Linked DNA regions of Homo sapiens. The protein of the gene in region 1 interacts with the protein of each later gene in a biochemical or structural test. Each region holds a gene or a part of one and is shown on either strand. Other genes may lie near its edges.

What was found. Proteins that work in one complex are often made in the same cells at the same time.
Region 2: of the proteins of CASR (region 1) and PRKCB, one has a biochemical effect on the other in vitro, tested with the Homo sapiens proteins (one study listed by BioGRID).

What each region holds. Positions count from the first base shown.
Region 1 is NC_000003.12:122,277,555-122,281,207, reverse strand, and holds part of CASR (extracellular calcium-sensing receptor isoform 2 precursor), read right to left. Parts: intron 1-3,653. UniProt on the Homo sapiens protein: G-protein-coupled receptor that senses changes in the extracellular concentration of calcium ions and plays a key role in maintaining calcium homeostasis.
Region 2 is NC_000016.10:24,216,979-24,220,731, reverse strand, and holds the end of PRKCB (protein kinase C beta type), read right to left. Parts: 3' UTR 772-3,753; coding exon of another isoform or gene 619-771; 3' UTR 121-618; downstream 1-120. UniProt on the Homo sapiens protein: Calcium-activated, phospholipid- and diacylglycerol (DAG)-dependent serine/threonine-protein kinase involved in various cellular processes such as regulation of the B-cell receptor (BCR) signalosome, oxidative stress-induced apoptosis, androgen receptor-dependent transcription regulation, insulin signaling and endothelial cells proliferation.

The DNA of each region.
Region 1 (3,653 bases):
TTTTGTTAAAAACAAAACAAAACAAAACAAATAAACAAAACCCTTCACCTTTTGTTGTGTGCTTCTGGTTAACTTCCAGGTTCTTCAGTGGTTTTTGTCCAGTTTTGTTCAATTTTATCATTGCTTCACCATTTCAAGAAGTCCTGCTTCTATCTCATTCTTTGCACCAGCTAATTGATTATTCATTCTAGGAATTTATTAGTCATTTACTATCTAACAATGTATATGTTTCAAAGACAAGAAATGTATCATAAGAATGAAGTCCGTTTTGCAACAGCATATGTATCTTAGAGGTAGAGAGCACTTCTCACTCATCTTTGTAACCCCAGGTACAAAGCCTGGAGTAATGCTTAATACATAGTAGGGCTTTTACTATTTCCATAATGTCTATTTAATGGGTCTCCCCTCTACCTACTACTTTGTAAGATGTCTTACAAACACAGAAAGCAGTAAAGTAGCTGTCGTTGTTTCTAGCAGAAATGACTGGCTTGACAAAGGAGTTAAAAAAAACTTGAACAGAAGATGATTGACATTATCTTCTAATGAATGAGGAATGGAAAGGCAGTAATGGACCTGATGATTGCCAAGACTCTCATGACCCAGGGAAGGGAAGGGGAGGGGAGGGAAAAGGACAACTCACATCATCATCTTCAACTATGGTGACAAGGTATCCTCAGAGATGTGCTCTCAGTCCTTGAGTTGCCAACCCATTTGATCACTCAATGAAAGCTAAAGGCCCTGTTTTCCAAACCCACACTAGGAATGCTTCTAAATTTTCCCCATTAAAGAATGATGGTTGCTTCCTCTCTTCCTATTTGAATACCCTTTATTTCTTTCTCTTGCCTGATTGCCCTGGCCAGAACTTCCAATATTATGTTGAATAAGAGTGGTGAGAGCGGGCATCCTTGTGCCAGTTTTCAAGGGGAATGCGTCCAGCTTTTGCCTTTTCAGTATGATATTGGCTGTGGGTTTGTCATAAATGGCTTTTATTATTTCGAGGTATGTTCCTTCAACACCTAGTTTATTTAGAGTTTTTAACATGAAGGGATGTTGAATTTTATCGAAGGCCTTTTCTGTGTCTATTGAGATAGTCATGTGGTTTTTGTTTTTAGTTCTGTTTATGTGATGAATTACGTTTTGCAGGAACAGAAAACCAAACACCCCATGTTCCCACTTATAAGTGGGAGCTGAACAATGGGAACACATGGACACAGGGTGGAGAACAACACTGGGGCCTGTTGGGAAAGGGTAGTGGGGTGGAGAGCATTAGGGAAAAGAGCTAGTGCATGCTGGGTTTAATACCCAGGTGATGGGTTGACAGGTGCAGCAAACTACCATGGCACACATTTACCTATGTAATAAACCTGCACATCCTGCACATGTACCCCAGAACTTAAAAGAAATACAATGAAAAAAGAATGATGGTTGCTGTATCCTTTATCAAGGTAAAGTGAGGTTCCCTTCTATTCCTAGATTAATGAAATTTTTGTTTTTAACCTGAGAGGTTAAAACCTGAGAGGTTAAAAATTTTTGTTTTTAACCTGAGAGGTGTTAAATGTTAATAGATACTTTTTCTGTGTCTACTGACATTGCAGAACTTTTATCTTTTATTCTGCTAATGTAATAAGCTACATTTATGAACTTTGTAAAGTTTGGCTATCATTACGTTCCTGTACATTCACCACTAACTCTACTAGCAGATGATGTTTATTTTATACATTGCTGGTCTGTTTGGTGATATTTTATTTAGGATTTGAGCATCTACGTATACAAACAATATTGTCCTATAATTGTCTTTGCTTGTATTGTTCTATCTGTTTTTGGTATCAAGATTATATTATCATCACAAAATAAATTTAGTAGCTTTCCTTCTTGGTTTCTGCTAGGCTGTGAGTGCCAAAAATCTCAAAATAATAACTCCCAACAAGACTGAACTGTATTTCTCTCTCATATAAATGTCTAGGGATGTGGTCTAGAGTGATATAGCACTCCATAATGTTGGACACCTAGACTCTTTCTACCTGGTGGTTCTGACATGTTTGTCTTTGCCTCATAGTCCTTGATAGTGGCATTTGGTTTCCAGGAGGCAAGATAGAGGAAGGGATGAAGAAGAGAGCAAAGGATACTTGCAAGCACTTTCTTAAAGAAGGTTCCCAGAAGCCATCCCACAACACTGCCACTTACATCCCATTCTCTAGGATTTAGTCATGGGGACGCACTTAGTAGAAATGAAGGCTGAAAAATGTCATCTTGAATCTGGGTAGTCATGTGTCTAGCTAAAATAGAGTTCTATTTTTAAAGAAAAAGAGGAGTATAAATAACGAGGGCCTATAGGAATGTCTGCCTTGCCTCTTTTTCTCTTCTTCTTAATGGTTAAGGAACAGGCTGAAGGTCACACAATGGCTTGACTGGAGAGCTGAGATTCGCGCTCAGGTCAGTCTTCAAAGTCTGTACTTTTCACTACACCAAACTCTGCTTTATACCAGTCAAGGCTTAGAAGAATGTCTCCATCTGGGTCTGCTTACTGCATCCTTCAGCAACCATGAGCTAAAGAGAAATCCTATCACCACAGGAGTGGGCTGAGGTAGCCACCGGAAAGATCCATTTTTCCAAAAAGCAGTCAAGTATCTCCAAGCCTCCTCAACAGTCTTATTAAAGATGCCTGTCCAATTCTGGCCAAGGAAGCTCATCTGAATTCCAAGACCCTAATTAAGGTGTCTCTTTTACTTCTTATTTGTTGTAGCAAAACAAGGAAAGAATTATTGGCAGCACAGTGTAGGGAATGGAGCACTGAGGTCTAAGTTAGGGCCCTTGGGGTCTAGTCTCAGCTTTTATACTGACCATCTGTTTGGCCTGAGAAGTCACCTTTGCATCCTAAAACCTCAGTGTCATCAACTTCAAATTGGAAGCTTGGATACAAGGATCTTTAAAGATCTATCTAGCTCTAAATTTAGTGCTACATTTGTAAGAAAATTGAGAACATCAGTTAAGTATAATGCCATATTAATACTTTGCATTTATATATTAGTAGTATGATTCAGTTTATCATACGCTTTTCATCCTTGATCTCATTTGATCTCAATAACAACTTTGTGAAATACATAGGGAAGTTACTAATATATAATTTATAGTTAAATATAGGTGGTATTTTTGTGGTCATTTCCACAACAGCACAGAAAATAATAGAGTAGATCCTAAGATTTGTTGAGTATCCATTGTGTGCTACGTTTGAGGTAATATTTCTATGGAAAAAAATTAGATTTAACTTATAACTGTGTCAACTATTCCAAGAACATAAGTGACTGAATTAATGAGAATTCCCTGTGTTATTCATCTATCAATGTTTAAGCCCATGATGTACATAGCCTGGGAGAGGACAGTTAGGGCTATGGAGAACTGTACAGGAGATAGCTCCCTGCTGCAGTGGAGAGACATGTGCCATTAGAGAATTCAATTCTATGCATTAATGGGGGTGAAAGATAAACTGGATGATCCAACAGGGGTAAACAGGTGGCAGTATAGCTGATCAATTTAGACTCCAGTCAGTGAAAATACGTGATAAATTAGACAAAGGTATAATTAGTGGACAGAGGAATATAACATCTGGAACCCCCAAATCTCCATCTGGAAAAGTCATGACATATTTATAATTA
Region 2 (3,753 bases), on another chromosome or scaffold:
TTTTGATTAAGTAAAATTCCATGTGAGTAAAATTAAGCTTATCTAATGGCTACAAACTGGATCTTCAGTCTGTAACCTCTGTAACATAGTCTATTTAAGAAAAGACATATAAACAAGAGCTTGCATATATTAATTCAGTTTAATCATATCAATTCTTAAACAAAAAACTTCCTCCAAGAGACAATAGTTCACAGTAACTGCAAAGCTTACTCACAATTTTTAAAAATATCGCTCATGCTTAGCATTCAAAGAAGATATTATAGAATAACTGTAAAAACTTTTACCAGGAACATCAGCTTCTGACTTGAAAAATTACAAATACTGAAGCATTTTGGTATCAGACACAGTAGTTTTGACATTGTCTGTTCATTTGATGAGTTTCTGGAAGTTTGGAAAATTGTACCTCTATAATTGGATAATGCGCTTATTCTAAACTAAACATTTTCAAATGTAGAAAACAAACTAGCAAGCTACACATACAAAGAAAAGCCCTCTAAGACAAGCTTTCCACATGTTGAATGCCAGCATGTGCACCGTGAATCCTGGAAGACTAGAATTGATACATACGCTTGGCTTGAAGTCTTACACCCCAGGCTCAACGATGGAGTTTGCATTCACCTACACATTAATGACAAACTCTGGGTTAGTATAAGAGAAGCCAGCAAATTCATTTTGGTCCAAGTTCATGATGAAGAGTTTATCAGTGGGGGTCAGTTCCACAGGCTGTCTGGTGAACTCTTTGTCGAAGTTGGAGGTGTCTCTCTTGTCTCTCTGCCAAATGGAAAGTAAACACATTAACACAGCGTAAGAAGAAAGACACAGGACCAAGATACGCCAGTCATTGGGTGGCTGATACCATCTCATGAGCAGAGTCAGAAAGAGCCCTGTGCTGAAAATTTTTAGCAGCTGCACTCCACGCACTGGCTTTCATTTCACATTGTATGTTGGCTTGGGGATAGAAATGTGGTGGAAATTTTCTAAGAAAAGAAGTAAGTCATTGAATGTCAGTTAAGAATTGCCATAAAGTGGTGTGTGTGTGTGTGTGTGTGTGTGTGTGTGTGTGTGTGTGTGTGTGTTGCTGTATTTTCTTTGGCTTTAGGATGAATTGAATTGGAAGCTACTTATTACCATGCTTAATGTTATAGAAATAATCATTAGGTAGAGCGTCCTGGAGAAAACCATTCAGTAGCAGCCCAGGTGGCTAGAAGACCTCTTTCTCTGAAAAGGTGAACTGCTGCCCATCTACTCTGCCCCCAAGAAGGCAGAATGGCCATGTGGAGAAATCAGATCACTGCTTAATGAAAGGAATTGACCACCGTCAGCTCGAAAATCCACCCACAGTCTAGAATTGGGTGTTTATCAGGCAGAAGTTCTCTCCAAAGACATTTTTAGCATGTGTCAACAAACTATAAGAGAGAAAACCCAAAGCTTAAAGGAGGGTGTGTAAGGGGAGCCTTAAAACAAAACAAAACAAAACAAAACAAAAGAAACTCAAAGCAACTCGATTCTCCTAGTAAGTCTGGCATTTCTTTTTTTGTTCAGTAGGGAGGTGGAGAAGAAATTAACCCCCATTTACTAGCAATTGCTTGGGGCAAGTCTCACCAGGGAACATCAGAATGTGGGCTAATAAAGGAATCTGTATGATGCTCCGACCTCTTCAGGGTCCTTGCAAGCCTCTTGTCTTTCCTCATCATCACCACACCCACCTGGGGCAGGTGGAGCTGGAGTCCTCACCTCCTATATATGACATATGAGAGAACCGAGGCACAAGCAGGCAGGGTGGCTTGCCCAAGATTTCAGTGGGTTCCTGATTTTTACCTGACCACATCGCTGCTATGTAGGCCTCATCACAGTCTCTCGGACTGGAGGGACAACCCCATGGCTGTTTTATTACAAGACAACCAGGGAAGAAGGCCTTGTATTCCCTAGTGCCCTGCACATTCCCGGGCTGCAGCCAAAGTTGCCTCAGATTATAAAGGCCAGGGGGTCGGTAAGGATTCACTGACTCATTAGCGTTTGAGCCATCACCACCCAGGCTTTAGGTTTAGCCCCCTAATGGGCACTAGCTGTTAAGGATCTCTCATTGCTGGGTTCACTCTCCTTTGCAAAAGACCTTTTACAAGACTTGCTTCTTTGTGGCTGCTCCCCTGAGATAGGTAAAATGTCTCTATGGAGTTCCCTCCTTACTCTTGCCAAGTCTATGTGAGGGTGTGGGAGTGAGGTGGGCACACTGAACTCAGGAGCACACGTGGGTATGTGTGGCTAGAGTGGGGCAGGCTAAGATGCTGATGGAGCTGTTTCCTGGGTAGGGTCCATCTCTACCATGTCCCACCTGCCCTTTTTGTCTTGTCCTGCTTGCTGTTAGCCTGTGGGGTGCTATAGGAGTTTCCATCCCCCAGGCGCTCGGCATGTTACTTCCGGTGTTCACAACAAAGCTCGAATGCCTCCTCTTTAATATTGTCTGTGCATCTCTCTCCCAATCCCCACAAGTCACACTTTAGCATCCTTTAATTATCTTGATTGCACTTATTGCTTTCAGAAATTGTCTTGTTTATTTATTATTTCTCTCCAAGAAACAATATTCTTGGAGAATTTCTTGGAGAGAAACAATAAACAGGGTCCTCATCTGCTTCTTCACTAGTGTATTTCCAGTGCTAAGAATAGTGCCTGGCACACAGTAGGTTGTTTGTAATTATTTGTGGAATGAAGGAAGACTTGGGATATGCCTCTATCCTTTTTGCAACTTATAATTGTCCCCGAGCCAGAAACTTTACTCTGAGGCAAAACAATGGAATTGATTCCCATTGATCCTAAAGGTCTCCCAAATGGGCCACTGTCCCTTTTGAACCCCTGTATGAACTGAACTGTGTTAGGGCCCCTAAAGGTCTGAGAACTCCAGGACAGTGTGTGAGCTAAAAGGCAGGTATATTTGGAGCTAGAAGACACAAAGCTGCCTTTTTTTTAGGTCTCCCCTGGTCTCATCAACCCTATTTCGCTTTCCCTGCCTGTGGGCCTCTTATCAAAGATTCCCTTCTGACCAGCCCCACCTTGGAAAGCCCTGCCCCGTTTGTTGTGCTGGTGATGGCTAATGCTTCAGATAACCACATGGTCCAGACAGGACTTGCTTTTATGGACTTTGTCCTGTGGGCAGATCCCCAGAGAAAATACTCCTGGATTTTACCGTAGAAGTTGGGAGAGAATAAGCTTCTCTGTTGAGATCATTTCTTTGAGGTTGATAGCATCTGAAGCCATGTGAAAACAGTAGCACTCATCCAAGGAGGGTTATTAATTCTACTGACCTCCCATTAATCCCCCAAGAAGGTCCTTGTTGCTATGGCCCTGTCCTCTCTTCAAAAAGCTCTGTTTCTCAGTTTCTTCTGCACTGGAAATGTGGATAGAAAAGGAAGTGGTAGAAATTCTGACTTTCCATGGAAAGTTTCTCTAAAACAGACTTTGGCTTGAGTATCTATTTCTGCAAACTATTAAACTTTTGAAAAATAATGGCAAGAATTTGGAAAATGTTGAGTGCAGTATTTATAACACTATATTCCTTCCTTCCTTCCTTCTTTTCCTTCCTTCTTTCCTTCCTTCCTTTCTCTTTCTTTCTTTCCTTCTTTCTTTTTCTTCTTTCTTTCCTTTCTTTCTCTTTCCATTCATCCTACATTGTTTTCTAAAGTTGTCTCAGATCATTTGTCAATGGCCTAGTGTTTCTCCATGGTTTTTATCTTCCTGAGAGCATGTCCAAGCAAAATG